2 separate regions of the Homo sapiens genome follow, and region 2 is linked to region 1. A link means that fine-mapping ties the variant in region 1 to the expression of a gene that starts in the linked region. Tissue or cell type: tibial nerve. Region 1 holds a variant in brackets; the other region holds the start of a gene. All regions are shown on one strand. Distances are between the middles of the regions.

The links. PIP is the estimated chance that this variant, and not a neighbour inherited with it, causes the effect.
Region 2: it holds the start of GPR155, and the variant in region 1 is fine-mapped to the expression of GPR155 in tibial nerve (GTEx, PIP above 0.99). The same link has a PIP of 0.9 or more in esophagus muscle.

The regions. Positions count from the first base shown.
Region 1 is chr2:174,509,769-174,526,223 of GRCh38, reverse strand. It overlaps LOC124906097 (a long non-coding RNA gene), which reads left to right. Exons shown (of 3, transcript XR_007087309.1): 3 at 3,228-5,001. LOC124906096 (a long non-coding RNA gene) reads right to left here and starts at 2,807. Exons shown (of 4, transcript XR_007087308.1): 1 at 2,551-2,807. The variant G/T (reference allele first, on the strand shown) is at 6,423.
Region 2 is chr2:174,479,292-174,495,746 of GRCh38, reverse strand. GPR155 (G protein-coupled receptor 155) reads left to right here and starts at 8,718. Exons shown (of 16, transcript NM_152529.7): 1 at 8,718-8,874; 2 at 13,760-14,250. The coding sequence starts at 13,791. GPR155-DT (GPR155 divergent transcript) reads right to left here and starts at 8,359. Exons shown (of 3, transcript NR_183819.1): 1 at 8,331-8,359; 2 at 6,833-7,712; 3 at 2,945-6,739. RefSeq lists enhancers at 5,828-5,927, 9,098-9,167 and silencers at 8,578-8,757, 9,021-9,203.

The DNA of each region.
Region 1 (16,455 bases):
ACACTTAGTTTGAGAAGTCACAATGCTGAAGCAACTGGTATCTCTGTGGAGATGTAACTAGGACAAGACCTTAAACTTTTTTTTGTGTTGAAGACTCTAGCAGAATAGACTTTTATTTGTCCATTATGCAAATAGGAAAAAGGAGAGAAAGCCAATCCTCTTTTTGATTTGACTGAGAAACCCTGTTAATGTTTATATCACTGGGAACATAGGCATCAACTACATTATCACCAAGGCAACAAACCAACAAGTAAGACTATGAGCCAGAATTACTAATGTTGTTGAAGGTCATGCTTACGCTATATGGCAACAATTTCTAAAATTTCTAGCATCTACAGGACTTCTTTGTTCAATAATAATTTCAATGATAAATTTACTTAAAACAGAAAAAGTGGGTAGAAGTTGGGAATATTTGTGCAAGACTTTATATCACACTGGAAATAAGACTGATGTCTTGTGAGAGTTCACATTTAACATCTTACCTCATCAGATTCTTTTACAAAGTTTTAAGCTATGAAACGATCTCTTTCTCTCCCTCTCTCTAGTTGCTATGGAGAAGAAATATCTTTTTCACCTCTTTATTAGACATTTTTTTAAATTATGAAGTTCTGTATTTTCAGAGCCAGACTCTGATATGTCATTAGTTAGCACTAAAAGCACAGTGTGACCTGTGAGTCTCAATTTTAGAAATGGGAAATGGGTTGTTAGGATTTAACTTGACAGCAGTGCAATTGGAACAATTTATCTTCCATGTTACAAAGAACAAGAGTCAGACTGACATTGGACTTCTCATCAGCAACACTGTGCTATGGTTTGAATGTGTCCCCTCCAAAATTCAGATGTTAGATTAAACCTTGTTGGTCAATGTGATACTCTTAAGAGGTGGGGTTTTTAAGAGGTGGTTAGACCATGAGGGCTTCTCCCTCACAAATGGGATGAAGGCCGTTATAAAACAGGCTTCAGGCAGCTTTCAGCTCTCTTGCCCTTCTGTCTTCTGCCATGAGAGGACACAGCGTTCCTTCCCACTGGAGGATGCAGCAATAAGAGTCATCTTGGAAACAGAGGACAGCCCTCACCAGACAACTGAACCTGCCAGCACCCTGACTGTGGACTTCCAGCCTTTAGAACTGTGAGAAAGTACATTTCTGTTCTTTATAAATTACCCAGTCTATGATATTTTGTTATAACAGCACAATCGGACTAAGACAAAAAGGTACTAAAACACAACGAGGAAATAGCTACTGTTATTGGTAACATGATTATGAACTGCAATAGTGTGGCCAGGCAAGCACAATTAAGTGTGAAGGTGGAATAAAGACACTTTTCCACACATGCAAGGACTTGAAGCAATTACCTCCCATGTGCCCATTTTTGGGAAATTGCTTAAAAATATTCTGCAGCAAAACAAGGAGAAAATGAAGAAAGGGGAAGACCAGTGATCCAGAAAACAGTGAAACAAACCCAAAAAACAGGAAAGGGAAGTTGCAATGTGACTTGCTATGAGGCAAGATGAAAGAGTAACCAGTAGAGATTGGAGGAGAAGGTGACGCCGCAGGAGGAAAGTCACCAGTGAAAAAAGTGTACATGGAGGAGGGGAATGGTTTTAAGTAATAAAATGAAGTAACTGAAAAAAGGTTGAATATATTATAAAGGCAAATGACACAAGAGGTGCAAAAAAAAAAAAAAAGGCAGCTAGAAATACCACAAGAAAAAAAAAAAACCATTGGCCAGAAGTGGTGGCTCACGTCTGTAATCCCAGCACTTTGGGAGGCCAAGGTGGGCAGATCACTTGAGGTCAGGAGTTTGAAACCATCCTGGCCAACATGGCGAAACCCCGTCTCTACTAAAAAAATTCAAAAATTAGCTGGGCATGATGGCGGGCACCTGTGGTCTCAGCTACTCAGGAGACTGAGGTGGGGGAACTGCTTGAACCCATGAGGTGGAGGTTGCAGTGAGCTGAGATTGTGCCACTGCACTGCAGTCTGGGCAACAGAGGGAGACTCCATCTCAAGAGAAAAGAAAAAACAAAACAAAACAAAAACATAATTTTTTAAAAAGGAAATGAAAGCATAATGTGCCCCCTTGCTTCCAATGTAAAGAGAGACCTGCTCTCTAGGAGTAAAAATTTAGTGTTGCAGTGTAATGGCTCATCAAATTGAATAAAGTCTGTGTAGATTAGGAAAGATCTTCAAAATTAGGCTCTGAGATGTGTACCCGTGGTCTGAGAAGCACCAGAGAGCCACAACTTGTTCTTAAGGAAGAGAATGAAAAGTTAAAGGCAGCATTTTAGGCAAGGTAGCCTGGCAGTAGGAGAGGAAGGAGGCCAAGTGGTATGTCTGTTGCCATTTTCCAGGTATGAGGTGGAGGAGTAAACCCACAATAGGGAAGGAAAAAACAAATCAGGAAGGCATTCCAAAGGAGGATGCTATAGGACCCAAGTACCAGGATTGGATAGAGGAGAGGGGATGGTTCCAAAGTTTTCTGGTCTGTGAACCAGGAAAATGGTGAAAGCTTTTATCTAGTATTGCTGTTTGATCATTGTACACATACTTTTCAGCCTCATTCTTGTCCTCCTCCTTCTTCTTTTCCTCTTCCTCTTCACAGGTTAATTTTAGGCTCCTTGAAGGCAGAGCCTAAAGCCTGAGTGTGTTTTATTGACAACCAGCTCTGAGGCCTACCACCATAGGCACTCAGCTGATGCGTGTGGTTGATGGTGGTGGTGGTGATGATGATGTCACAGTGCTTTATAGATGGGGAAAATGGGGAAGAGGAGTCATTTGGGGCATAATGATGATGGGGCCGGGTGCAGTGGCTCACACCTGTAATCCCAGCACTTTGGGAGGCTGAGGCAGGTGGAACACCTGAGGTCAGGAGTTCAAGACCAGCCTGGCCAACATGGTGAAACCCCGTCCCTACAAAAATACAAAAATTAGCCGGGCATGGTGGTGGGCACCTGTAATCCCAGCTACTCAGGAGGCTGAGGCGGGAGAATTGCTTAAACCCGGGAGGTGGAGGTTGCAGTGAGCCAAGATTGCGCAACTGCACTCCAGCCTGGGTGACAGAGCGAGACTCAGTCTCAAAAAATAATAATAATGATGATGATGATGATGGAAATCAAACTTAGTAAGATGCCAACTCCTACTGGGAGATGGAAAAAATACTTTTTGAAATAATTACTGCTACTTCTTGTTTAATGAAATTCCTTATTTTATGTTTCCTTTCTTTAGCATCCTTTACTTAATGCCATGTCTACCTATGTAGAATTAAAACCAAGCAGTATTGGGAGGTCTGAGCACAGTCAAGGAAACTCACTTCCAAATTCTTCTTTCAACATATGTTTTGGCTGAAAACAAATGCACTCATTTTTAGGAAGCAGAACTACTTAAGCAAGATCCAGCCTACGAGCATGGGTGTTCTACATCTTGTTTTGTTCCTATTTCTGAAGACCAAAAAAAAAAAGCATTATTTTCAAAGGAAGCACTAGGTGGCACTTGTGATGTATTCCACAGTTGCCTCCGATCCTTTTTGAAAAAGGTTTGATAGAAAAAAAAATGCAATAAATATTAAAATGGGAAAATCGTCATTACAATAATGAAGATCAGCATGATTGTGTTTACTATGTTACTATGTATGAGCAATATCTTTATGCAGTATTTGCATTTAAAATCTGAGCTTTGCTTTCTTGATAAAAACTGCAAGACGGGAACTGACATTTCTATAACATGTGAAAACCCCACATCGCTAAAATAATAAGTAAAAATGTAATGCCTGGTTTGCAAAAAGATTGACTATAAATCTTCTTTTAAATAGTTTCTGTCTTCCATTTAGAGTGTTTGAATTTGTAAAAACAGATAACAGAATAAATTTTTCAAGGTCCATCTATTGTGAAAAGCAAAATTTAAAAAATCATAACTTGAAATAAGGCACTGCAGCTTCCAGGTTTTGACTAATATTAACCAAAAAAAACAAAAGAAAGAGAAAGAAAGAGAGATGAAGATTAAAGCAGATATCTCAGGGTTTTTACCATCTTTAAAGTAATAACGTAAAGACTTTAAGCAAATGTATTCTTTTCTGTTATTCAGTTAGTTCCCATTTGGCAACTGCTTAATTATCTCATGGTCCCATTTCAATGTCGAGAGATTGCAAGCTTTTAACAGAAATTCAGGTTGAGAAGGAACTATGAAAAATAGAAAATATTGTTGCCAAATACCATGGCAACAACTGTAGCCTGCAGACCTTTTCACGATACTGCATCTTTCCCCTACCTATTGTCTAGCCTTGGCAGTAACCATTTTTATGGATTAGGTTCTCTTGTGGCTTCATCTCACTTTTCTACCTCTTATTCTTCCTTTGTTTCATTTTTGTTCCTTATTTTAAATGTTTTTTTTCTTGCCATACCTCTGTAGGATAATTTAACACAATGAAATCCTTTTGGAACAAGCTGGGTTATAAATAAATTAATAATAATGCTAATGTACTGTCTTGTAATTGCACTAATGTGTGGGTTTGGATGAAATTGACATTTTGAAGGTAGTATCTCATATAGTAGTAAACTCAGCATGTCAGAACTCAGAGCTAAATATGCAAAACAGCGACAGTGCTGAAAAAAATCTTGGATCTCGGTGTAATAGTTGAATGTCTTTGGATGCAAATGATGGAAATGGATTCTGACTAACAGAAGCAAAAAGAGACTTTTAACAGGGTGCTAGCTAGGAACTCAGGATAGATGGGAGGCTGGAGAGCCAAATCAGGACACAAGACAGGAATGAAGGCAATTCCTGGAGTCCAGGCAGCATGAACAACTGAAGGATCTTATCTGGGTGCTGCTCCTCCAGTATATGTGTTCCAATATTTTCCCATTCCTTATGCGCCTCCACTCAAGATGAAAAGTTCCAAGAGTACAGTCTGCTTGATGTTTGCTGGGCATTCACAGATTTATAGTACTAAAAATATGTGAGACCAGGTGCAGTGGCTCATGCCTGTAATCCCAGCACTTTGGGAGGCCAAGGCAAGAGAATCACTTGAGTCCAGGAATTCGAGACCAGCCTGGGCAACATAGTGAGACAGTGTCTCTACAGATAAATAAATAAATAAGTTAGCCAGGCGTGGTGGTGCACATCTGTAGTACCAGCTACTTGGGAGGCTAAGGTGGGAGGATTGCTTGAGCCAGGGAGTTCAAAACTGCATACAGTGAGTGGTGATCGCACCACTGTACTCCAGTCTGAGTGACTGACAGAGATCTTCTCTCTCTAAAAAAAAAAGGAAATTTAGTATGGAATGAAAGCTCTCTTGAAAGTTTGCCAAAACATAAAATAGCATACATTTGGGAAAAGAAGTTATCCCAGGAGTCCAGTTGTCTTACTTTGGGTCACATGTAGCTCCTTGGTTGCAGAGAGGAGATGAGAAATATTGAGTTACATTCCGATCAAGACTGTCCTCCAACTGGAAGATGCAATAGGAAATTGGGGTACTCCTGGGAAGGGTGCTCTTGGTTGCTGGCCACCGAAAAAACAACGTATGTGCATTACATTACAGCAAGAGTAGATTGTAAGTTTCTGTGTTGTATTCTAAAGCTCTAGCGTGGGGCAAGTAGTGTCTCTGAAAAGTGCATATCCATGCAGAACCTCAGAATGCAACTTTGTATAGAAATAGAGTTACTGCTGATGTTATTAGTTAAGGATCAAGACGAGACCTCACTGGATTAGAGTGGACCGTAAATCTAATGATTGTCTTTATAAGAGTCAAAACAGCAAGCACAGAGACACACAGAGAAGCAAGTGATGTGAAGACGGAGGCAGAGATTGGAGCAATGCACCCACCAGGCAAGGAACACCAAGGATTGCCGGGTCGCCAAAAGCTAAGAAAGAGGCATGAGGAGGTTTCTCCCTCGGAGCTTCTAGGAGGAACTAAGCTTACCCACACTTTGATTTGGGACTTCTGGCCTCCTGAATGGTGACAGAATACATTTCTGTTGTTTTAAGCTACTCATTTTGTGCCACTTGGTTATAGCAGCCATTGGAACCTAATGCAACCCCTAAGAGCAGATTTTTTGGCAAAACCCTAAGAAGTAAAACCATGAGAATAAGCACATGGTAAATGCATTTTTGTGACTGTGAATACAAATGCATTTTTGTGACAGTGAACCTAATGCAACCCCTAAGAGCAGATTCTTTGGCAAAACCCTAAGAAGTGAAACCATGAGAATAGGCACATGGCAAATGCATTTTGTGACAGTGAATACATTTTGTGACAGTGTATTCCTTTTTATTTCAAAAGAGAATAAATCTATGAATGGTTTAGTTCATTTATGCCACAAAGAGCTATTGAGTCCCTCTTATGTGCTGGGACATTCTAGGACCTGGAAATACAGGGGTGAACCAATGGGACAGACTCACTAATCTCAGAGGGCTTGTACTCAGAGG[G/T]TTAACAGTAAACAAGACATATTGGGGTTGAGATCAGAGCCAAGAGGAGAGCAAAGCCGGATGATGTGACCTAACATGATGGACAGGAAGTGGGGAGCCCGTTCAGATTGGTGGTCAGGCAAGGAGAAGAGAGCTGAGACCCAATAATCATGAGGAGTCAGACATTCTTGAGCTGAGGGAAGGGCATTCCAGGCAGAGGGAGCAGAGAGAAACTGCAGCAGAGGGACCATTGACAAGCAGAAGGAGATAAACTGGAAGATGTAGGCAGAGACAGTTCATGACTTACTTTCTAAGACACATCACAGAAGTGGAGAATCTTTTTTTTTTTTTAAGACGAAGTCTCGTTCTTGTCCCCCAGGCTGGAATGCGATGGCGCCATCTCGGCTCACTGCAACTTCCGCCTCCCGAGTTCAAGTGATTCTCCTGCCTCAGCCTCCCGAGTAGCTGGGACTACAGGCATGCACCAGCACGCCCGGCTAATTTTTGTGTTTTTAGTAGCGATGGGGTTTCACCATGTTAGCCAGGCTGGTCTCAAATTCCTGACCTCAGGTGATCCGCCCGCCTCAGCGTCCCAAAGCGCTGGGATTACAGGTGTGAGCCACCGCACCCGGTAGAGAATCTTAAGCAGGAGAGTAACACCTGCTGATTTAAACATTTAGTGGGTCCACCTGCTACGTGGGAAAAAACTGCAGTGGGGCAAAGCGGGTAGGGTGCATCTGGGAGGCTAGCACAGGCCAGATGAGAGTAAATGGGGCTCAGAATCAAGTAGTTAGTGAGCTGGAGAGAAGTGGGCTAATTCTAGATATGTGTGAGGTAGAGTTTGACAGGACTAGTAATTATTAGTTAAGTGCCTTTTCTTGGTCCACCGTTACTTGAAATTCTATAAGGGAATACCTTATAGAAAATATTATATCACTAAGACTAATATTCAGGAGGTTTACATTAAATTGAACAAAAAAGATGGTATACATATGACATATTTATAAAATATATACAGACTCAGAATGCCTTAGTGTGTGATTGATAGAGGCAATAAAGGTAGGAAAGAAGGCCTCTGTGCCGATAAAGGTAACAAGGAAGGCTCCATGGACTTCAGATGGGCCTTTGAAGATACATGAGACAGGAGAGCATTCCAGGGTGGATTAGGCATGAACGAAAGAAAAGAGAAAAGTGGACAATGATTGTGCAATATTTAGGGTGGATGAGTAAACTGATTTGATCAGATTAGAGAGCTTAGATACAGTAAATAATGCCAATAAAATTAGGTCAGTAAAGTGAGGATAGATGATAGAGGACTGAAATCCAGGAGGAGTTTAGATTTAATCTTTTAGGCTGGGTGCAGTGGCTCAGGCCTGTAATCCCAGCACTTTGGGAGGCTGAGGCAGGGGGATCACTTGAGGTCAGGAGTTCAAGACCAGCCTGGCCAACATGGTGAAACCTCAACTCTACAAAAAATACAAAAATTAGCTGGGCGTGGTGGCATTCACCTATAATCCCAGCTACTTGGGAGGGTGAGACACAAGAATCACTTGAATCTGGAAGGCAGAGGTTTCAGTGAGCCAAGATCACACCACTGCATTCCAGCCTTGGCAACAGAGCAACACCCTGTCTCAAAAATAAATACGTAAATAAAACAAAATAAATTTACTCTTTTATGCCAGGGATCTGTAAGCTTTTTCTGAAAAGGGCTAGGTGGTAGATATTTTTCGTTTGGAAGACTATGCAATCTTCATCTCAACTCTCAACTTTTTCATTGTAGTGTGAAGGCAGCCATACACAAAACTTTGAAAATAAGCATGGCTGTTTCAATAAAGCTACTAATGAAAACAGATAGGCTGGGTGTGGTGGCTCATGTCTGTAATCCCAGCACTTTGGGAGGCTGAGGCAGGCGGATCACTAGGTCAGGAGATTGAGACCAGCCTGGCTAACCCGGTAAAACCCCATCTCCCCATCTCTAGTAAAAATACAAAAAATTAGCCAGGCGTGGTGGCACTTGCCTGTAGTCCCAGCTACTCGGGAGGCTGAGGCAGGAGAATCGCTTGAACCTAGGAAGCAGAGGTTGCAGTGAGCTGAAATCGCGCCACTGCACTCCAGCCTGGGTGACAGAATGAGACTCCATCTCAAGAAAAAAAGAAGAAGAAGAAAGAAAACAGGTGGCTGTGGGGCATGGTGGCTCATGCCTGCAGTCCCAGTGACTCAGGAGGCTGAGGTGGGAGGATCCCTTGTGGCCAGGAGTTTGAGGTTATGGTGAGCTACGATCACACCACTGCACTCCAGCCTGGGTGGTAGAAGGAGAACCCATCTCGAAAAATAAAAAAAATAAACAACAACAACAACAAAAACACTGGCAGATTGGACTTGGCCTTTGGGCTAGAGCAGTAGAGCAATAAAATAAAAATGGTGTTTTATTAGGATTTTTGAAGTAACCACGTACAAGGGTAGTGGGCATTTTTAGCTACTTGGCATCCATTTTCCCTGTCCTTGGTCCACACTCTGTCCAGGTTTTCCATCAGATGCCTACTTCTCTCACATGTTTAAGGAGAATCTGATTGCACTCCCAGCTGTATGAGTCGAAGTCCATCAGGTTATCCTATCTCTCTTTCCACAGTATTGGTTCATACAACCCAGACCTAAGCCAACTAGTGCATGCTCTTTCGCAGGCACAGATGTTGATTCAGGAAGGGCATCTGGCAAATGTTGTCTAGTAACATGCAAAGGATGTTCACTGGGGCTTCTAGAAAGACACTTTCTTACTTTTCTGAGAGCCACCACAGAGGACACTCTCTCCTCTTCTGGGCAGAATGGTATAGGGATATGAAACCTGAATCTCTAGATTCATTTTGCCACTCTGAGAGAAGCAAGATCTAGAATGAAGTTGACAAGACTGAAGACAGAGAAGAGAAAGGTAAAGAAGGCAGGTCTTGTATAACATGGCTGAACAACTAAATTAAACCTCCCCTGAAGCCTATCATACCTTGGACTTTTTAGCCAATAAATCACTTCCATTGCTTACATTTGTCTGAGTTATCTATCCCTTGAAATTGAAAGTATTTCATTGTCACAGCGAAATCACATGAAATGAGGAAATGCTGAAGGGAGCTGGAGCAGACAGGAGACTAGGCACAAAGTGATAGCATATGAGATGGCAGTGAGAAGGAGAAGAGGGACAGCCTGAGTCACTGGAAGGGGAGAATTCATTTGGAAGTCTAAACTATATCAATGTGACCAGCATGTCCTCGTTAGATAAGAGACAAAGAGAAAAACTTAAGAAATATAGCTTCCTTTCCCCACCACACCTCACCACCTCATCACTAAAAGCCTGTTTATAACTTCTTTCTACCCAATACACCATGCTTGGCTATCACGAAAAAATTACAAGGCATACTAAAAGGCAAAAAACACAGTTTGAAGAAACAGGCACCACAGGAATGTTGAAGTTACCAGAGAGGGAATTTCAAATAACAATAATTCACATGCTAAGGGCTCTACTGAATAAAGCAGGCAGTGTGCAAGAACAGATGGACAATGTAAGCAGAGACAGAAATCCTAAAATAAACAAAAACAGGCCAGGCACGGTGGCTCATACCTGTAATCCCAACACTTTGGGAGGCCAAGTAGGGTGGATCACCTGAGGTCAGGAGTTCAAGACCAGCCGGGCCAAAATGGTGAAACCCCATCTCTACTAAAAATACAAAAATTAGCCGGGCGTGGTGGCACACGCCTGTAATCCCAGCTACTTGGGAGACTGAGGCAGGAGAATCACTTTAATCCAGGAGGCAGAGGTTGCAGTGAGCTAAAATCACCCCATTGCACTCCAGCGTGGGCAACAGAGCGAGACTCTGTCTCAAAAAAAAAAAAAAAAAAAAAGAAATGTTAGAGATTTTCAAAACACTGTGACAGAAATAAAGAATGTCTTTGTGGGGCTTGTTAGCAGATTGGACATGGCTGAGGAAAGAATTTCTGAACTTGAGACTACGTCAGTAGAAACCTCTAAAACTGAAAAGCAAAGAGAACAAAGACTGAAAAAAAAAACCCCAAAACAGTACAAAATATCCAAGAACTGGGACAACTACGAAAGGTATAACAAACTCATAATGGGAATACTAAAATGAGAAGAAAGACAGAAAAGAACAGAAGAAATATTTGAAAAAACAATATCTGATAATTTCCCCCAATTAATGTCTGATACCAAACCACAGATCTAGAAAGCTTGGAAAACCCCAAAGAGGATAAGGGCAAAAAATCACTCCTTGCCATATCATTTTTTTTTTTTTTTTTGAGACAGAGTCTCGCTCTGTCACCCAGGCTGGAGTGCAGTGGCCCGATCTCGGCTCAATGCAAACTCTGCCTCCTGGGTTCAAGCAATTCTCTGCGTCAGCCTCCCAAGTAGCCTCCCGCCACCACGCCTGGCTAATTTTTGTATTTTTAGTAGAGACGGAGTTTCACCATCTTGGCCAGGCTGGTCTTGAACTCCTGACTTTGTGACGCCTTGGCCTCCCAAAGTGCTGGGATTACAGGCGTGAGCCACCATGCCCGGCCACCATATCATTTTTATATTACAGGTAATCAAAGGAAAGAAAAATTCTAAAAAAGCCAGAGGGAAAAATATTCTTACCTACAGAAGACCAAAGATAAGAATTATATCCAACTCTAATCAGAAATTATGCAAGCAAAAAGATAGTGGAGTGCAATATTTAAAGTGTTGAGAGAAAAAGACCACCAACCCAAGATTCTGCAACCAGAAAAATTATCCTTCAAAAGTGAAGGAGAGGCCAGGCACAGTGGCTCATGCCTGTAATTCCAGCACTTTCAGAGGCCAAGGCAGGTGGATCACTTGAGGCCAGGAGTTCGAGACCAGCCTGGCCAACAGGGTGAAACCTTGTCTCTACTAAAAAGACAAAAAATAGCCAGGTGTGGTGACACATGCCTGTAATCCCAGCTACTTGGGAGGCTAAGGCATAGAATCACTTGAACCCGGGAGGTGGAGACTGCAGTGAGCAGGTATTGCACCACTGCCCTCCAGGCTGGGTGACAGAGCGAGACTCCATCTCAAAAAAAAAAATTTTTCTTTCTTTCTTCCTTCCTTCCTTCCTTTCTTTCTTTCTTTCTTTTTTTTTTTTTTTTTTTGAGATGGAGTTTTGCTCTTGTTGCCCAGGCTGGACTGCAATGGTGCAATCTCGGCTCCCCACAACCCCCACCTCCCAGGTTCAAGCGATTCTCCTGCCTCAGCCTCCCAAGTAGCTGGGACTACAGGCACCCGCCACCACACCCGGCTAATTTTGTATTTTTGGTAGAGACGGGGTTTCTCCATGTTGATCAGGCTGGTCTCAAACTCCCGACTTCGGGTGATCTGCCTGCCTTGGCCTCCCAAAGTCCTGGGATTACAGGTGTGAGCCACCATGCCCACCCAACTTTTATTTTTCTTATTCTTAATTGACCTAACAGGTAACAGTTCATTCAAAATAATAACAGAAATAATGCATTCAATTGTGTATGCTTATGTATATGTTCGGTATATTATACATATATGCACATTATATATTACATATATATCATAGTCTATATGTACTTATATATGTGAAATAAATGACAGCAATTATGTAAAGATCGGGAGGGAGGAATTAGGATTATTTTGCTCTTATATGATACTCACTCTACCTGTGAAATGGTATAGGGTTATTTGGAAGTTGGCTTGGATTAGTTGTAAAAGTATAATGTAAACTCTAGAGCAATCACTATAAAGAAGTGACAAAAGAAGTATAGCCAAAAAATAAGAGAAAATGGAATAACATAAAAGGCTTATTTAAAACCATAAAAGGCAGAAAAAGAATGACAGACAAAAAATAGATCCCCGCTGGCAAGGGGCATGGAAAGAAAGAGAAGAAAAGAAATAAGCTTAACAAATAGAAAACAGTAACAAATATGGTAGATGTCCATCAGACTATATCAATGATCACTTTAACATCAATGGCCTAAATATACCAATTAAAAGACAGTGATTGTCAAGGTGGTTCATAAAAGACTTATCAATATGTTGTCTATAAGAAACCCACTTTGAATATAAAGACATGTAAATATTAAAAGTAACAGATGGAGAAAGACATACCATGTTAATACTAACAAAAAAATTTGAAACACTGACAGCACCAAATGCTGATGAGGATGTTCAGCAACAGGATCTCTCCATTCATTGCTAGTAGAAATGCAAAATGATACAGCTACTTTGGAAGATGGTTTAGTCGTTTTCTACAAAGCTAAACATCCTGTTACCAAACAATCCAGCAGTTGTGCTCCTTGGTATTCACCTAAAGGAGTTGAAAACTTACGTCCTTACAGAAACCTGCACACTGATGTTTATAGCAGGTTTATTCATAGTTGCTAAAACTTGGAAGCAACCATGATGTCCTTCAGTAAGTGAATGAATAAGTAAACTGTGGAACATCTAGGCAATTTTGCTATGAACCTAAAACTGGCTCTAAAAAGTAGTCTATTTTTTAAAAAAAGAGTTTTAGGAGGGGAAATCATGATCAGATTTTTATTTTTAAGAGGTCACTCTGGCTTCACTGACCCATGTGGGTGGAAATAAAGAACAAAAATGGGTGTAGAAGAACAGTTAACTGCAGTGGTCCAGGTGAGAGATGGTGCTAGTTTGGTCTCAGGTGGCCGCAAAGGAGAAGATGAAAACATGCTGGCCCTAGAGGGGAATAAGATTTACAGACGTGTCTCTCCGGAAGTCGATGAACTGTTTGGCCTTAGTTTCCTCATCTATTAAAAGAGAGAGAGAAGAGGACTATGGGAGTTGGCCAGAGGTCTTCATGATTTAGGGATAACCTATCACTGAACCAAACGTAAGGCAAACAGAATCAACTGAATGCTTGAGTCAGACATCTTTTCCTTTGTAATGGCAGCCCTATATTAGACAAGAGCAGTATCAGGCAGATGATGATTTTTATGAGATAATTTTGAAAACATAACTTCCTGGACACTCTTCAAATATAACGACCCACTTCTTTATTATCCTAACTGTGCTAATAGTGAATATTAAATATGATAATATTATCCAATATGAAAATAGCCATTGAGAGACACAGACAATATGTGGAGAGGTTCCAAACTACTTCAAACAGGAGTCCCAGAAGTGAACAAAGGAAATGGAAGAGAAGTGCTATTTGAAGAGATAATAGCTAATACACTGATAGACTTTGACAAAGGCAGAATCCTTCAGATTAAAAGTAACAGGAGGTACAGAGCAGGAAAAGTGAAAGTAAACTTACACCTACACATTACGATGGAACAACAGAAAATCAAAGCTGAAGAGGAAAACTCTTAAAGCTCCCAGAAAGAAAGTAGAGATTGCTTACAAAGGAATGATGATTAGATGGACCCCTGACTTTTCATCGCCAAAAACAAGTGCCAGAGGACAACCGGTAATAATGGAAGTTAGTGCTGATGATAAATAACCATCAACCTAAAAATCTGTACCCACATAAACTATCATTTAAAAGCACCTGAGAACTATAACTGAAAGACCATTGATGAAAAGGACATAGTATAGAAAAATAATAATAACAGCAAACACTTATTGAATACTTACTATATGCAAAGATAGTGTTCAAAGCCCAAAAGTCATTTAATTCTCACAGCAATCTTGAGGGAGCTACTATAATTACCCTGATTTTACACAAAAGAAAACTGAAGCACAGAAAGGTTGAGTTACTTATCCAAGATCACACAGCTGTAAAGTGGCAGTCAAGGCTCTACACCAGGCAGCCTGGCTTTGAAGCCTGTGTACGTCCTCACCACTCCCAGAGCCCGGGGGGAAGGAGTCAGACTCAGGAAAGAGCAGCAGGCACAGAAATGAGTAGCAATATGAGGGTAATATGTTTTTAAAACTTGAGAGAATTGAATTCTTATGTGTTCTTTTAAGAAACAAAACTAAAATTCTTGGCAATACTGACAAGGCAGATGGAGGAAAAGCAGGAGTGAGCTTTGTTCTCTAGTAAGTGTGGAAAGTCCAGGAAGTGATCAGAGATAAATCTTGGACTTTGGGCTTTTTGGGTTGCTTTGTAGGTTTAGTTAAATGCAAAAGTTAACAGTTAAAGGGTAAAAACACTAAAAACATATATAAAGACACTATGAGACCTTATTATGAGGAAGAACACGGAATTTACCTTCGTTCCCACTGATAGAATTAATTAAATGGGCCGGGCACAGTGGCTCACGCCTGTAATCCCAGCACTTGGGGAGGCTGAGGTGGGTGGATCACCTGAGGTCAGGAGTTCAAGACCAGCCTGGCCAACATGGTGAAACCCCATCTCTACTACAAAAAAATACAAAAATCAGCTGGGCGTGGCAGTGGGTGCCTGTAATCCCAGCTACAGGAGAGACTGAGACAGGAGAATTGCTTGAACTCAGGAGGTGGAAGTTGCAGTGAGCCAGGATCGCGTCACTGCACTCCAGCCTGGGCGACAAGAGCGAAACTTCTTCTCAAAAAAAAAAAAAATAAAATAAAATGAATTAAATGAACTGTGGCCAGCGGCCAGCGTTCCTTCTCTGGCCGATAAACCTCAGGAGTTTACAGCACACAGACCAGATCAGTCAGGAGTAGTCATCACACCGTGGGGCACCCTCAGTGGCCCTCTGCATTTTTTGCCAGAAGTTAGCATGTGCCTGTGACCTAAGCCTCACCTGTAAGCCCAGGAGAGAGCTGTGAACTGTAAGTAGAATGTCACATGGGCCTTACAGAGCAACTGTAACTCAGGGGTTAGTTGAGTGGAGGTTGTAAACCAAAATAAAATTCTAAGCCCCCCAGTTGGCTAAACAGGCCTCTCTCTTGGCCAACAGGATCCCAAAGAAACCTGAGAGACTACTTCAGGCCATGATGGGAAAGGCAAGTTTGGACATGCCTCCTTTTACCCTGGTAAATGGTAAAATGACTGGTTATTTTAAAAAGAGGGATGCTTAGGACAAAACAGAAAGTCCAAGCAAGTCATAAATGGTCTGTGTAAGTCACGTTAAGGTTCACAAAAGGAGAACTTATGAAAGAAATTTTGTATGTGATTAAGGTGTCTATAATTAAAAGGAAATTATAATCATCTTTCTAGAGATTGGGCTTTGATATTAAAAACACACTAAGACACTAAATAATTGATTAGAACAACATATTTTCTTTCTTTTTTTTTTCCTGAGATGGAGTTGCACTCTGTAGCCCAGGCTGGAATGCAGTGGTGTGATCTCAGCTCACTGCAACCTCTGCCTCCTGGTTCAAGTGATTCTCCTGCCTTGGCCTCCTGAGTAGCTGGGACTACAGTCATGCACCATCACGCCTGGCTAATTAGAGATGGGGTTTCACCATGTTGGCCAGGCTGGTCTCAAACTCCTGACTTCGCATGATTCACCTGCCTGGGCCTCCCAAAATGCTGGGATTACAGGCGTAAGCCACTGCGCCCAGCCCAAGATTTTTTTAAAGTGTTGATTTACTCTTAATAAAATTGAATTATAGGAAGTTTTAAATGTTGCATTCTCCTTCAGCAGCTTTATTATGTCATGCCACTCTCTCTTGCCCTGTGAGGTTTCCACTGAGAAGTCTGCTGCAAACATATTGGAGCTTCTTTGTATGTTTCTTTTCTTTTGCTGCTTTTTGGATCCTCTCTTTATCCTTGACCTTTGGGAGTTTGATTAGTAATTGCCTTGAGGCAATTTTGTTTGGGTTAAATCTGCTTGGTGCTCTATAACCTTCTTGTATTTGAATATTGATATCTTTCTCTAAGTTTGGGAAGCTCTCTTATTATCCTTTTGAATAAACTTCTACCCTAATCTCTCTTTTTACCTCCTCTTTAAGGCCAGTAGTTTAGATTTGCCCTTTTGAGGCTATTTTCTAAATCTTGTAGGTATGCTTCATTCTATTTTATTCATTTTTCTTTTGTCTCCTCAAACTGTGTATTTTCAAATAGCCTATCTTCAAGCTCACTAATTCTTTCTTCTGCTTGATCAATTCTGCTGTTAAGAGATTGTGATGTTGGCCAGGTGTGGT
Region 2 (16,455 bases), 30 kb after region 1:
CCTGAGTGCTGAGGAGACAACTGCCTCTTCTTCAGTTAATTTGCTATTACTCTTACTGATGTTCTACACTGTTTGGAATGTCTAGCTAATCCCACGAAGGCTTTTTCCTCTCTAACCTTCACACAGGCTAAGTTCTCTGTAACAGAGCTCATGCTCCTTCCCTGCTTACCACCTTCAGAAGTTAACAGAGGAAATCTGGACAAACTGGTTTTGGACAAACGTTACCTACAGACTCTAATTTTTGACACTCATGGCTGGATGGGTGAGACTAAAATGGTTATGAAGAGAGATTCAGACAAGGACTTCTGAATTTCACTGGGATGTCTGCTTGTGGTTTGAAGATTTCTAAAAACTGCTTCAATTGCCCTCAGATTTGATCTTCTTTTTCCTGTAGGATAAATGATTTATTCACTATGGCAAATGTTGGGCTGAAATTTTCAATACCAGTTCTTGGTTTGACAAAGACTATTGGGTTAAAACAACAACAACAACAAATCCTTGACCAGCCACTGAGACAATATATGAAAGGAAATTTTTAAGAATCCTCTAGGAATTTTGTCTTTTTTTTTTTTTTTTTTTAGAGGGAAGGTCTCACTCTGTCACTCAGGCTGGAGTGCAGTGATGCGATTAGAGCTCACTGCATCCTCAAACTCCTGGGCTCAAGCAATCCTCCTGTCTCAGGCTCTCGAGTAGCTGGGACTACACAGGCATACACTCCCACACCCGGCTAATTATTTTATTTTTTGTGGAGATGAGGGCTCACTTTGTTGCCCAGGCTGGTCTTAAATTCCTGGGCTCAAGCAATCCTCCTGCCTTGGCCTCCCAAAGTGCTGGCATTACAGGTGTGAGCCACTGTGCCTGGCCTCAAGTTTTAACATTACTATAAACATCTTATTGTCTCCAAAATATATGAGTATAATAAACCTATGGGACAGGATTTGAGTTACGCCATTTGGACTAATAATAGGTCAGACTTGATATAGTTAATTATGCTATTAGCTATAGACTATAGAGACCGAGACCCCAATTCACACTGCACTGGGAAGCATAGTTTTATCAAGGTTGTTCTCCAAGAGTAACAATCTCCAATCTAGTGTCCAGACCTCTTAGTGAGTAGGCCTGGTGAATGCTCTTGTGTTTCAGAAGTCTTAAGTTTCCTTTCCTGTCTCAACTTTTTGGGAAGGTCTAGGGAAAGCTTACATAAGAGTTAAGGTGAAGAAAAGTCTAAATAATGTTTGAAATTCTGAGAACATTTAAATATTTGTAGAATTAATTAATGGAACACTATCATATTTAGTCTATGTAATATCAATGATGAGTCCCCATGATTTATCCTGTTTCAGCCACTGTCATTTATAAAAATTGTCTAGTTCCTCTGCTGCCATGTAGACACTTGAGTTTTGATAATTCTTCTCTATCAGTTACTTTTGTTAATAGCGGAAAGAAGCAGTCTAAGAAAGAGCAGGGACCCGGCGTGGTGGCTCATGCCTATAATACCAGCACTTTGGGAGGCTGAAGTGGGCGAATCACTTGAGCCCAAGAGTTTCATACCAGCCTGGCCAACATGACAAAACCCCATCTCTACAAAAACAAATACAAAAAGTAGCCGGGTGTGGTGGTGCATCCTGTGGTCCTAGCTACTCGGGAGGCTGAGGTGGGAGGATGACTTGATCCTGGGACGTTGAGGCTGCAGTGAGCTGTGCTCGTGCCACTGCACTCCAGCCTGAGCGACAGAGTGAGACTGTCTCGAGGAAAAAAAAAAAAAAAAAAGAACAGGTGTTTCTGTTTTGAGTGATTCTCTAAATACAAAAATGTCACCAACTTATTTAGCTCTATTGTAAGATTTAGTAGGGCAACAAAAGTTGATCAAGTTTCTACTTTCTATTCTACCAAATACTGTTCTGATACTGAAGAGACTACAGAAATCAACACAGATAGAGGACCTGCCCCTTCAAGGAAGGAAGGAGACTGGAACCCCTGAAAAATTTCCTCTACTGGAAGAATGCACCTGAGGTATGTGCTTCACTGTTGTGCTGAGGATGTGATAGCCTTTTTTTGAGCTAGCTATTTACTCGAAAATGTTTTAACTAGAATCAGCTAAAAACATTCTTAATCTAAAGTCAAGGTTAAAATCTGAGATTTCTCCACTTCCTGCTTGTGTTTTACAATGTTGGTTAGTTTTAGTTTTTCAACTTAGGCATTATTCAAATTAGAAAGTGCTCTGCACAGTTAAAATATTATTTCTTTAAAGGCTGCCTATTAAATAAATTTGTTAGTGAGCCCACTTTTAAATGAACAATTCAGAAGTAGGAACAAGTGTATTTTTTTGTTTTTCATCTTCATGTTCCTGATCTCTAACTCCTTTCAAAAAAAAAGTGGTCAAAACAAAACCACAAGTATCAAGAAGCTAAGTCTTGAAACAGACTGGTGCGGCCCCCAAAGTTACCATGCTTCTATTGTATGATTTCTGCAGCCTATCTTACGTAAGTCATCGATTTAACTTTCAGTTTCATAAGCTAGTTCTGGTTTCATTGTTTTTCTGCTTAACATTTTTTTTTTTTAGACAGAGTCTTGCTCTGTGGCCCCCGAGCTGGAGTGCAGTGGCATGATCTGGGCTCACCACAACCTCCGTGTCCCAAGTTGAAGCAGTTCTCCTGCCTCAGCCTCCCCAGTACCTGGGATTATAGGCGCGTTCCACTGCACCTGGCTAATTTTTGTATTTTTAGTAGAGACAGGGTTTTACCATGTTGGCCAGGCTGGTCTTGAACTCCTGACCTCAGTGATCCGTCTGCCTTGGCCTCCCAAAGTGCTGGGATTACAGGCGTGAGCCACCGCGCCCGGCCTCTGCTTAACTTCTTAAGTGCTGGCCTAGACAAAAGCCTCTGCCCATTTAATCACATTTGAGCCTTTCTTGGGGTCAATAACAAGATCAATAGCCACGTGAGATGTTTAGGTTCCACTTTATTGCTTTTGTGAGAATATTTCAGTAGCAGATCGAAAGAAAAAAAAAGCTATCGTATATTTATGCACACATAAACATATATATGTATATTAAAAGATAATACTCAGGGTTTTAACTTGACAGATCAGAAATAATTATTTAATTCTAGCATTTACAATCACAAAAAGGAGTCAACAATTTGGCGGAATATTTATTTATTTATTTATTTGAGATGAAGTCTTGCTCTGTCGCCCAGACTGGAGTGCAGTGGCGTGATCTTGGCTCACTGCAACCTTCGCCTCCCCGGTTCAAGCAATTCGCCTGCCTCAGCCTCTCAAGTAGCTGGGATTACAGGCACGCGCCATCACACCCAGCTAATTTTTGCATTTTTAGTGGAGACAGGGTTTCACCCTGTTGGCCAGCCTGGCTTCACATGATCTGTCCACCTCAGCCTTCCAAAGTGCTGGGATTATAGGTGTGAGCCACTGTGTCTAGCCAGGGGGAATATTTAAATAAAGCTATAAAACTTGGCCAAGTGAAAAGCTGGAAACAAGAAATCCAGTTACTGTAAAAGATCTATGTCACAGTTGCTTGTATCAAATACTTCCCATAGTTACAATCCAACTTCCTAGATAGCTGATAGGCAATTATGTTTTATTAAATCATTCAAAAACCATTTACAGAATGCCTGCCATATGTCAGGGAAAGCACTATTCTAAATGCTGAGAATACAAAGATCAACAAAAGCAAGGCCTTTGTCTTCTCTAAGGTCATAGGCTGCATCATATCCATGCTCTTAAATCATTCTATTTTATGGGTGGATTTCATATATATTCCTGGTTTAATAAACGATCATCGTTTTAAAATTTGTTTTAGAAGATTTTCATATAGCCAAAATACATACTTTGTATATTAATTTTATCAAGAAAAAGGGAAACTTTTCTGCACAGAAAAAAAAAATTTAAATCATGTGTATTCTTACCACTCAGAGATAATTACTGTTGCATTTTCCTTTAGCATTTTTCCTATGCATTTGATTTTAAGTAATAGAAAACCCAACTCAAACTTGTTTAAACAATGAAGAAAACTGATTGGTACACATCAATGAAGAGTCCACAGGCCAACCGGTGAGGCTGCTTTAGGTGGGGCTTGACCCCACAACTCAATATGTCATCAAGGTCCCTGTTTATTTCCTTCTCTCTGCTGTGGCTACCTTGGTCTCTGCACCATTCTAAGACTGGCTTCTCTTATGGTTCTAAAATGGCTGTCGGCATCTTCCTCTTGTCTAGCAAGAAAGAGAAGATCAGCATTCTCTGCAAAAGTCCTGAAAATTATTCAGCTGAGCTACTTCAGGATCAGTGCCTACCCTGACTAATCATTAAGTGCAAAGGGATGAAATACACTGATTGGACAGCCTACATTAGTTACATCATCTCTGAAGGGAGAGTGAAGTCAACTTCTCTGGAAACATGAATCCCTAAAGAGAAAATGATGCTATTGGGAAGGGGAAGGGGAGTTTTAAAGAAACTAAAAGTTTTTAAACAAAATCTGGCATCGTACTAGACATGTTCAAACAGCACATTTTAAGTCACTCTCTTTTATTTTTCTATGCTTTACTCAACTTTGATTAGACTTTATAGATGGCCCAGTTTCCACTTTTTCGAAGAAGATCATCCTCAAAATTTCGCTAGGGAGTATTTAATAGGCATTAAAAATGATATAAATCTATCTATATGAATAAATTGTTTATGGATTAAAAAGGTATTACTAAATGAGAAGTGACTAAAATCATGTGTATGAAAATCATATGTATAATCCTATTTTTCTTAAATAATCTATATTTGCATAAAATGATACATATATGGTATAATATTAAAGAAGTTATCCATAGGTATGATTTTCACTTTCTTCATTCCTTTCTGTATTATCTGAATATGTTATCATTGTTATTACTTTCATAGAAAGAAACATTAGAAGTACTTCATTTTGGAAAAGATAAAATTCACCAGGAATCCACATGTACATCATATTGCCTCAACATATATCCTACATGACCTTTGTCATTGTATCAAACCATTTGGTTTGTTTCTCCTGTCAATTTTGATCAGCGGGACTTGAGGGAAATCGGGATATCAGTGTGCTTGAAGTTTATAGGTCCCACTTATTTGTAAATGAAAGTTATGATTAATTTACAGTTTTCCCTCCATTATTCTGCATTACTTTTAGCTTTTCTTCATTTTTTCCAGTTAATAGTATAGAATAAGTCAGCATCTCACAGAATGATTAGCAGATATGGCAGTGGAATTAAGTTAGTTTCTCGTGGCGTTCATTGGTAACTACTTCTCTGAGGGTGACTTTTTAATGAAGTCTTTCATCTTTGTTTACATTTTGTTCTTAGAGTTTCCTTCCACAAGCTGCTCTGTGGAAGGAAACCTCACCAATGAGGTTTCCACAAGAAACTTCATCAATTCTGTACGGATGTCTTCTCAAACCATATCTTTATTTCTGCTCTTTCTCTCTCTTTTCTGTTTTCTCCCTAGGGGTCTACCGGAAATCTCTACATACATGTGCTGATGCCTTTATGAGAAGTTTGTTTACAGGACGGGGGGGCTTTTATTCTCATTCTCTGTCATGGACTAGTTGAGTGTTCTTAGACCAACTGCTTAATCTCCTAGAGTCTCAGATGGAGAGGATGATAACTTCAAGAGAGAAAACTGAACTAGAAAATTTCTCAAGGTTTTAGATTTGAGGTCTAAAACCACATTCATTATTTTCTCCTTGAAACTGCTTCTCCCACTGAAATAGTTCTTCCTTTCATTTTCAGGTAACAGAATAATAGAAAACAACGAAATTTTATGGCTGGACAGGATACTAGAAGCTCTCTAGCTCAATTTCTTTTCTTTATTTTAATGGATGAGGAAATACATAAGCTTGTTAAATCCTTCCTTCTCTCTCTCTCTCTTTTTTTTTTGTCGTTTTCAGACAGGGTCTCACTCTGTTGCTCTGGGTGGAGTGCAGTGGTGCGATCTTGGCTCACTGCAGCCTTCGCCTCCTGGGCTCAAGCAATCTTCTCATCTCAGCTGCCTGGGTTGCTGGAACCACAGGTGTGTGCCACCACACCCCGCTAATTTTTTTTTTTTTTAAAGACCAAGTTTTGCTCTGTCACCAGGCTGGAGTGCAATGGCACGATCTCAGCTCACTGCAACCTCTGCCTCCCGGGTTCAAGCGATTCTCCTGTCTCAGCCTCCCAAGTAGCTGGGATTACAGGCGCACACCACCACGCCCGGCTAATTTTTGTATTTTTAGTAGAGATGGGGTTTCACCATGTTGGCCAGGCTGGTCTCGAACTCCTGACCTCAGGTGATCCACCCACCTCGGCCTCCCAAAGTGCTGGGATTACAGGCCTGGGCCACTGCGCCCAGCCTAATTTTTGTATTTTTTGTAGAGATGGGGTTTTGTCATGTTGCTCAGGCTGGTCTTGAATTCCTGGGCTCAAGTGATCTTCCTGCCTTGCCTCCCAAAGTGCTGGGATTACAGGCGTGAGCCACCTTGCCCTGTCCTTCCTCCTCTTTAGCCCTATCAGTAACTGAGTCTCATCAGTTCTCCCTTTTCCTGTCTCTCAGGCCTATTCCATTATTTTTACTGTCATCACCCAAGAGTAGGTCTTCATTTCCTTATGTCTTGGTTCTTCTCCAAGTCACCACACTGTTTTTCTTGCCTTCAGTCTCTCTTTCAACTAATCATGGTACAGCTTCCAGATTACACACCCACAAATAGTGTGATCATTCTGACATGTTCCTGTGGGGAAAGAAAAGTTACATGTTTTACTGTGGCCAAAGGATAAGGTTCAAACTAACCCAAGGAACCTCCTACAGGTTGACCGTAACTTACCTCTGCAGGCCTATCTTCCAGTATTCCCCTGATAGTCAATGCTCAATAAGTATTTATTTAATTGAATTAATCTTCATACTTCCTAAACAAAAATCCTTTTAGCCTTGAGATAATTTAGATCTTCAATTTTTTTTTTAAGTAGTCAGGTTCAAGGGAAACAAAGAAGGCAGTTAAAAGTGAGGAAGACAGAGAACAAAGGAGAAGCAAAGAGAACTGGAGCAGGATCCATGCCTTTTATAGCTTTAATTTCTGCTCATTTTTCCTGCTAAGTTTCAGATCCTTTAACCTACCCTTAGCTTACTGTAATTTTTCTTAATAAGCCACACAATTTTGTATCTTTGCACTAAGATGGCCGAGATGATAGGAAGACACGGAAATTGCCATACAGAAATGTTTAAGATGCAAAGCAAGATAAAAGGTTGTAAACAAATGCTTGTAGATATCTTAAGTGGAAACATATATAAATATTTTAAAATTTGAAATAATTTTTATTTCAAAAGGCTAACTCAATTGCAGGATTTCTTCAGGTTTCAAAGTGGAGCACCATATTTGGGATACTATATATAGGTTTGTTGTCTGATGCCCATGGCAAGTTAATACACTGGGACACCAGGTTGCAGAAGAGAAAGAGGTTTAATCATAGGGCCACCAAACACAGATAGGAGGAAACCTCAAATTCGTCTCCAGGAGGACTTTGAGTCTCAGGTTCTTAAGGGTTTTAGAGTGGTCCCAAGTGTGGAGATCATTAATTGGCTGAAGAGTACAGGGCGAAGTCATGGGACAGCGAGATGAAGAAGCTGTATTCTCATGCTGATTCCCTTCTTCTGTGGCAGGGGTCTTCAAGCTGGCTGGCATCAGCTGTTTCGCTGGAATTTGGCGTCTGAAAAACATTTTAAGCAATTCTTAAAAAGCCTTACGACTCTTAACATCAGAAAGCCTATCTATAGGGACAACGGGATACAAATGTACTATCTAGCTCTACCCGACTTTCGGGTTACAAGGAAGTGGGTCAAAGTGTAGCCTGATTAATGCTTAATTATATTTTTGTCCAGAATTCTTATAAACCCTGTGAGGATAGTTTCAATACCTTTATTTCAAGAAGCTTTGGAAGTTTTCCATCAATGTAACCAGTTTCAGTATACTGAGTGGACATGCATGTAGTTCCCCACCCCCACCCCACCCCCGTACCGCAATAGAATAGAAGCAGTCATGGACGGGGCCCAGATTCTAAAACAAGCTCAGGGCTAAGGGTTTACATTTTAATCTCTTATGTAGGAACGTCAAGGTCACACTGCCTTGGTGAAGGTGGAAGGCAGGATTTTGACCCAGGTCTGATTCTAAGCCCTTGCTTTAAAACTCTATGCTATAAAAAGTCCTGGGCTAACCGGGAGCGAAACTGGCAGATCACACGAGGTTGAGGTTAAGCGGAAAGACAAGTCTGCTCTGCGTCTGTACTTGGGAAGAGGAAAAAAAACTGGACATCCCCCACGGCGGCTACCATTTTGTGGGAGCAGGGAAGCCGGAAGTCCCGCCCCGGAGGATCGCGGCTGGGAGGCTCCCAGCCGGCAGGGCGGGGCCGGGTACCCTGGGGCTCCGAGGCTGGAGGAGGGGGCGGGGACTGAAGGCGGGGTTGGGGAACGTGTGGCTCGGAGGCCCGAGGCTGTGGGTGGGGCCTGAGGGCGGGACGGAGACTCTGGGCTCAAGGCTCCTGGAAATGGGCGGGGCTCGAGGGCGGGAAGCGGCCCGTCTTGCTGGAAGTTCGGGGCTGGGGGCGGGGTCTGAAGGCGGGGCTGGGAGGGAGCGGGGCCTGAAGGCGGGGCGGGGGCGGGGCCTCGCGGCCGGCGAGGGGCTGAGCTGACAGGGCCGCATCGGCTTACCCCACCTTACTTTATCGGAACGTGCCTAAGCTGCTGCAGCTGGCACCCGGTTGCGCTCGGCGAAGAGGGCTGGGGGCGGGAGATGACGGTGGTCTTCTCCCTGCTTGGCACCCTGCGAGCACCAGCTCCCTTCTCCTCGCCACTCCAAGGTTGCAGACGAAGCAGGTGAGAGGGGCCCCTGGAGCGCGGACCTGCTGGGTCCTGGTTCTCCCTTGCGGGCACGGGGTACCCCTGCCTCTGCCCCTCAGGCCTGGGCACGTGGGCAGCCGCCGACCCTCTGCGCCCTGGCCCCGCGGCCCGTTGTCTGGACCTGCTGTCTCTGCCCCGCAGCGCCTGCCTGTGGAACGTGTGAGATCACCCGGGAAGGCTCGCGCGGGGGAGGGGGTGTCTCGTCCCCTCCGGAGACAGAACTGCCATCCCTAGTTTGGGAAGCTCCTCACTGCACGGGCGTCCACCCTGTCTTTCTTAGACTCTTCCCTTTATCCCGAGGGTACCCTCAGTATCTGGCCCTTCCGAAGGCTTCTGCCCAGGCACCTGGAGCACTGCGCCAAATTTTCTCCCTTACCCGTTTTTGGGGTATGTTAGTTACCATGACGTTGTGACTCCCGTGCCCTGGGAAGACTAGCGACCACCTTTTTCTTACGCCAGGCAAAGACCCCTGGCTGCCTTTCCACTTCCACAGCTGCCTTCCCAGGGGTTGGCTGGCAGCTGCTCTCCGAGCAGCCTATTCGGTTAGGAACTCTCTGCGCCCCTTATCTTGGAGGGCCACAGTCTGTCCCTGCAGACGAGGCAAGGAGGCAGTGCTCAGCGCTCCCTACCCTGGGTCTCTAGGGAGGACATTTGGCGCCCTGCAAGTAGGTAGGAGTGGGTGAATGGTGCGACTATTAATGTTGAAGAGTGCTCTAATAGTACCACACTGTATTACACTTATCCCACGGGATAAAGGATGTTGGATGTTTGAGAAATAGCCTGAGAGTTTAAAGCTTTCTCTATGAAGTTAGTCAACCCTCGCCTTCCCCCCGCATTTTCACTTAATAGCAGTTATTTACAGTATCAGTGGTTCGTTTATGTGATCTAAGCCAAATGTGATGTGGCTAGAAGCGGTTTGTAAGTACAGTAGCATTTCTTCAGTTCGTGCCTCAGCGAGTGGTCTTTTACTGTGAACGTGTTTGTTCTGTAACAAGCTTTGTTTTTATAGATAAAAAGGCTGGATGTAATTTTTTTTTTAAAACTTCCCTTGCTGTGGTTCCTGTTCATTTTAAAATATGCTTTAGAAAGCATATTATCTTCCCGTTTAAAAAAGATTAGGATGAAATGAAACTTTTAAAGTCATTTTGATTATTTTGACTTTACCTCAGCAGGTATTTCTTTTATAATACTGAGAAACGTTAAAAGAAACCTCATGGGGAGGGGCAGATTGCTTTTTTTTTTTTTTTTTCTTGAGACGGAGTCTTGCTCTGTTGCTCAGGCTGGAGGGCAATGGCAGGATCTCGGCTCACTGCAACCTCTGCCTCCCGGGTGCAAGAGATTCTCCTGCCTCAGCTTCCCGAGTAGCTGGGATTACAGGCATCTGCCACCAAGCCCGGCTAATTTTTGTCTTTTTAGTAGAGACAGGGTTTCACCATGCTGGCCAGGCTGGTCTCCAACTCCCGACCTCAGGTGATCCGCCCGCCTCGACCTCCCAGAGTGCTGGGATTACAGGCGTGAGCCACTGCGCCCGGCCCTTTTTTTTGTTTTGTTTTTTTGTTTTTTAATTTTTCAACGAATTGAAAGTTAATCTTGGACATTGCTACAACTATTTGACCATCACCCTGAGAAAAATGAAGAGCTCTGCCTTCACTGTTAACCATTTACTATCAAACCAAATTAAATTCAACTTATCTTAATTGTTTGGTATAAAACAAAAACTGATAAATTTATGACGCATCCCATCCCTCTTTTTTTAGTTGGTGGATCTTTTACCAGTTATGTTTGAAGAACTAACATGTTTACTTTTTTATCATTATTAGTAGTAAGACAACAGTTCCTAATAGCAATTGCTGCCGTTTTTTGAAGGCCTACTCTGTGATAAGCTGTATATAAAATATTCTATCCACACAATATCCCTCTAAGGAGGTCTTTGTTTGAGACAGGGTCTTACTCAGGCTGGAGTGCAGTGGTGTGATCATGGCTCACTGCAGAGACCTCCTAGGCTCAGGTGATCCTCCCACCTCAGCCTCCCAGGTAGCTGGGACAACAGGCACGCATGACTAAGCTCAGCTAATTTTTTGTAGAGACTAAGGTTTTGCCATGTTGGCCAGGCTGGTCTGAAACTCCTGGGCTCACACAGTCCACCTGCCTGGGCCTCTCAAAATGCTGGGATTACAGGCGTGAGCTGCTATGACTGATCCCTATAGGGAGGTTTTTACTCTCATTTTACAGTTGAGGAAACAAAGGTTCAGAAAGACTAAGTAACTTATGAGTTGATAAACCATAAAGCTCAGAATCTGTTTGACTCTCCACTGAACTTCTGCTAGTTTAAACTGTTGGTTAAAAAATATTATTGGAATGCCTTGACATGCTCGTGTTGTACAAGTAAGGGCTTATAAGCAGAATGAGTTATTAATACTCTAGGCACTTTTGAAAGTGAACAGAAGACTGGATTAATTTATCACTTTCCTGTTTAGCACTGCCTTTCCAAGTACACACCGTCTTAAGGGCTCCAAATGTTTAACGCCTTTGTTTAATTGTTTACCAGCTCCTTACTTCAAGTATGTGTATCTGTACCAACCGGTAGCTTTCCCAAGATATAATTTGATGCTTATTTGGTAAACTTCAAGTATGTGAGTAGTGTAGGTTTCATGTACTATATTGACCACTGCTATCTAATCCTAGTAGGAAAATACTTGTCCTAATCCAGATTAAATATAAGGTTTTCAAATGGTTCGGTTTATACAAGGGTAGCACAGAGAAAATTCCCTTGTACCCACGCCAGCTATCAGTTGTTGGTGATCTCTGGGCTGCCATCTAAGTCTTTTTAATGTGATATAGATGTTTGAGGACTTAACCTGAGCATTGTAAATTTCTGGAAGCATGAGCTTTTTACTTTCTACCTTATATCAGTCTACTTTAGATGGTAAACCCAGAATAATCACTTAGAAATTGGCTATTGTTGGCTGGGCGTGGTGGCTCACACCTATAATCCCAGCATTTTGGGAGGCCGAGGCGGGCAGATCACCTGAGGTTGGGAGTTTGAGACGAACCTGACCAACATGGAGAAACCCCGTCTCTACTAAAAATTCAAAATTAGCCAGGCATGGTGGTGCATGCCTGTAATCCCAGCTACTCGGGAAGGCTAAGGCAGGAGAATCTCTTGAACCTGGGAGGCGGAGGTTGAGGTGAGCCGCAATCACGCCATTACACTCCAGCCTGGGCAACAAGAACAAAACTCCATCTGAAAAAAAAAGAAAAAGAAATTGGCAATTGTCGTCATTTTAATTTCAAGATACTAATAAAAGCTGATTAGCTTTAGAGTTATCCAGACCTCATGTTCATTGTGTTCCTGGCAGCAAGAGGGGGTCTGATAATTATTGTACTATTCGTGTTTTGAATTTGTTCCATGCTTTAGCATTTTCTGAACCTCTTTAGAACATTTTACAAAACATTTTGTATTTTTTAACATTTCATGAACACCTTTAGACATATTTTGTGTTCTTGGTTCTGTTGCTGTAGTGGAAAACTTATAATACTTTATCATTCAGAAAACAAAAAAAAATTCTGTCTGTAAACTAAATAGTGCCTGAAAGAGAACATTGATCCATGAAAGGGTAAAAGGTTTAAGTATAAGTAATTATAGTTATTCATTAAAAAAAATTTTTTTTTCTGTCTCGTGTATGCCAGGTACTGTCCTAGATGTTAAGGACACAACATTGAGCAAAAACATGCATAGTCCCTGCTTCCGTGACACTTGAGTGAACTGAATGTGCAAAGTCCCTGTGGCACAAAGTCCCTGGGGCCAGTGTGTGTGGCGGGTGTAGAAGGAGCTAAAGGTATATTGGTGGGAGGTCGTCATTTTTTTCTCTCTCTCATGTTCTACCAAAAGTTATATTTAACTTCCGTTAAGTAATTACTCTGTTCCAGATGTGATTATAAAGACTTCAGTGGAATAATCGCAAGTTCCCATGTGGTAGGTATTACTATTATTGCCATTTTACAGGTGAAGAAGGTGAGACACAGAAAAGTTAAAGTTAATTCGTTCAGGTCGGGCACAGTGGCTCATGCCTGTAATCCCAGCACTGTGGGATGCTGAGGCAGGCAGATCACCTGAGGTCAGGAGTTCAAAACCAGCCTAAGCAACATGTCGCTACAAAAATACAAAAATTAGCCGGGCGTGGTGGCACACGAATCGCTTGAACCCAGGAGACAGAGGTTGCACTGAGCTGAGATTGCACCACTGCACTCCAGCCTGGGAGACAGAGCAAGACCCTGTCTTTAGAAAAAAAAGTTATTGGTTTAAAGTTGATTAGTAGTGCTCTACTATACCCTTCTTCCCATCCTATATTCAAATATGACCACGGGCTGGAAAGGACTCTGGTCCCTGGGTGACTCCTCAATGTAGCCTTGAGAACTTCTGAAATTTCCAGAGAATTTGGATGCATGGGGACATTCAGCGGAGACTATGTGTGCCCGATGCCCTTATCCACCAGGCGGAGCTCAATTGATGGAGAGAATCACTGGAGAGAACCACAGGGCATCACTGCAGCTCTAATATTTGCGGATCTTATTTTACTCATGTCTAATACTGAGTATAGAACTTAGCAACATAAATATTTTGAGCTGACCTGCCTTTGAGAGTGAAGCGATTATTGTTAGCAACCCCCCACTTTTTTTTCCATTGTATTTTCCCTGATGGTATGTATATTTATTTGGCCATTGAATAAGTAAATAAATCTAGGGGTATGTATATTTATTTGGCCATTTAATAAGTAAACAAATCTAGGTTTGCCAGTGTATTATTTCAACTAGAATTCTTGTTGATGGCCATACTGAATCTTTCTTCCTTTCTTTCCAGAGATCTGGTTGGAGTTGGAGGGTGAGAGAAAATGAATTCTAATTTACCTGCAGAGAACTTAACCATTGCAGTCAATATGACCAAGACTTTGCCTACAGCAGTAACGCATGGATTTAATTCCACTAATGACCCACCTTCAATGTCAATTACAAGGCTTTTTCCAGCCTTACTGGAATGCTTTGGCATTGTCCTTTGTGGCTACATAGCAGGAAGGGCCAATGTCATAACATCAACCCAGGCCAAAGGACTAGGAAATTTTGTCTCCAGATTTGCACTTCCAGCTTTATTATTCAAAAACATGGTTGTACTTAATTTTTCCAATGTGGACTGGTCCTTCCTATATAGTATCTTAATTGCCAAAGCTTCTGTATTTTTCATTGTATGTGTATTAACCTTATTGGTTGCCAGTCCTGATAGTCGATTTAGCAAAGCTGGACTATTCCCTATTTTTGCTACACAAAGTAATGACTTTGCATTGGGATACCCTATAGGTAAGTTAATTTTTATTTTTCAAGTGTTTAAAAAATTCAATTTTAATTTATTTAGGCATTTGTTAGTAACAGATTCTTACTCTCATATCTAAGAAGTTTTTCATTTTTTTCTCAAATATGTCTTAGGATGAATCATAGTTTTTCCTAAACTTCAGAGTTTGAGGATCCTTTAAACATCTACCTAAAATAAACGGTCATATTCTAATAACCACTGTGAACAGTCCTAATTGTATTTTTTTCTTCCCGGTAAGCACATATGAAAGAAGCTTAATTTTTAGAAAGGATCCAATTGTGATTTAAATTATGTTAAAAAAGTAGATTTATGTCTATATAAAAATAGTTATTATTAAGTGTTTGTGAAAGGAATTTATTTTTCCTACCATCTAGAATATGTATTATTTTATATCAGAAATTGTTCTGGGGCCAGATGTGGCTCACACCTATAATCCCAGCACTTTGGGAGGCCGAGGGGGGCAGATCACTTGAGCCTAGGAGTTCGAGACCAGCCTGGGCAACAGGGTGAAACCTCGTCTGTATAAAAAAATAACAACAACAAAAAATTAGTCAGCTGTGGTGGCACAAGGCTGTAGTCCCAGCTACCCAAGAGGCTGAGGCAGGAGGATTGCTTGAGCCCAGGAGGCAGAGGTTGCAGTGGGTCAATATTATACCACTGTACTCCAGCCTGGGTGACAGAGTGAGACCCTGTCTCAAATTTAAAAAAAAAAATTGTTTTTGAGCTTGTTATTCAAAATTTTAATGTATTTTAGTTGCAGTTAATTTCTTGTTTAAGAAAAAAAATGGTGAGAGCTTTTTTACCTTTCTAACTTTTCCTTTTTTATGTTTCTGACTCTTTCAGCAGCCTAATTTTATGTTTCTATGTGTATATGTTTTACTAATGAAACAGTAAACGTACCAGTTTGGGATATTGACATATCTTGAAAGGAAACATTCTATATTTCAGAACACTCTGTCACCAAGAAAATGTATATTTTAAATTACTTTTTTATATTTTAAATTAAAGTTATATATACTTTGATCATCTATCAAGTATGAGGACTTGAATATTATAGATATATTCATTCATTCATTCATTCACTCACTCATAAGGAACTGTTTCGTACCAGTGGCTGTGCTGACTGTTGGGATTATAGCTGTGAACAAAGTTATTGCACATATTAAATTTACATTGTAATGGGAGAATAATAAAATTAAAATCATGTCAGGTGGTGACAAGGGCCATAAAAATAAAGTCACGTAGAAGGATAGGAATGTGGAGGTGCTATTTGAGGTAGGGTGGTCAATGAAGGCCTCTCTGATGATATGTCTTCTGAGCAGAGACTTGAGCCTATTGAAGGATACAATTGAAATCTACAATTAACTTTCAAGTTTCTTACCTAGCAGTTTTATCCTTTCCCCTCAAACCCCAACTTATTTCACTGCTGGTACCAAAAAGATTCTATTTAACTATACTTTTCACTTCTGTCTCTACTTTTGACTTTCCTCTATCTTGTTACCAGAAAGAGAGAAACACCTAAGAAGTTAAATAACTGTCAGTAAAGCTGGAGGTTTAAGAGACAGGAAAAACTGGGCTCATAGATAATTGAGCTACAAATAGTCAGAAACTAGATAGGTGTTCCTTTAAGGTTATTGAATTTCAAAAGGAAATAAAGACTTTTGGAAAGAAAACAGCAAGGAGTTAACATGTTTGTCCATTTCCTCAGGAGAATTAATAAGGTAAATTTCTCAAGGTATTTATGGTATAAGGACCTTAGAACTGACTCGGCACCACAGTGTTAAATATCTGACAAATATTATGTATCTTTAGACATAAACTAGAAGTATATAGTTTCATGCTCCCATAGATTAGTGAGCCGATAATGAAATAGAACTAACATTTATAACTATGTAGTTTACAGAGTACTTTCTTATATACTTATCTCATTTGGGTAGGGCAGATATTTTTATCCTCATTTTCAAATAAGGAAACTGGCTTACAGAGATTTAATTATTTTATCCCAGGTCATACAACTAGCAGGTGACTGACACCCAAACCTAGGTCTTCTGGTTGCAAATCCTGGGCACTCTCTTATGCCATGCAGTTACATAATGTGCCAGTTCAATTTTCAGAAGACCCAACCAGCCTTGTAATATACTAGTTCCAGAAAAAATGAAAGGGTTTTTTTCCTCTAAAATATTCCATAAAAT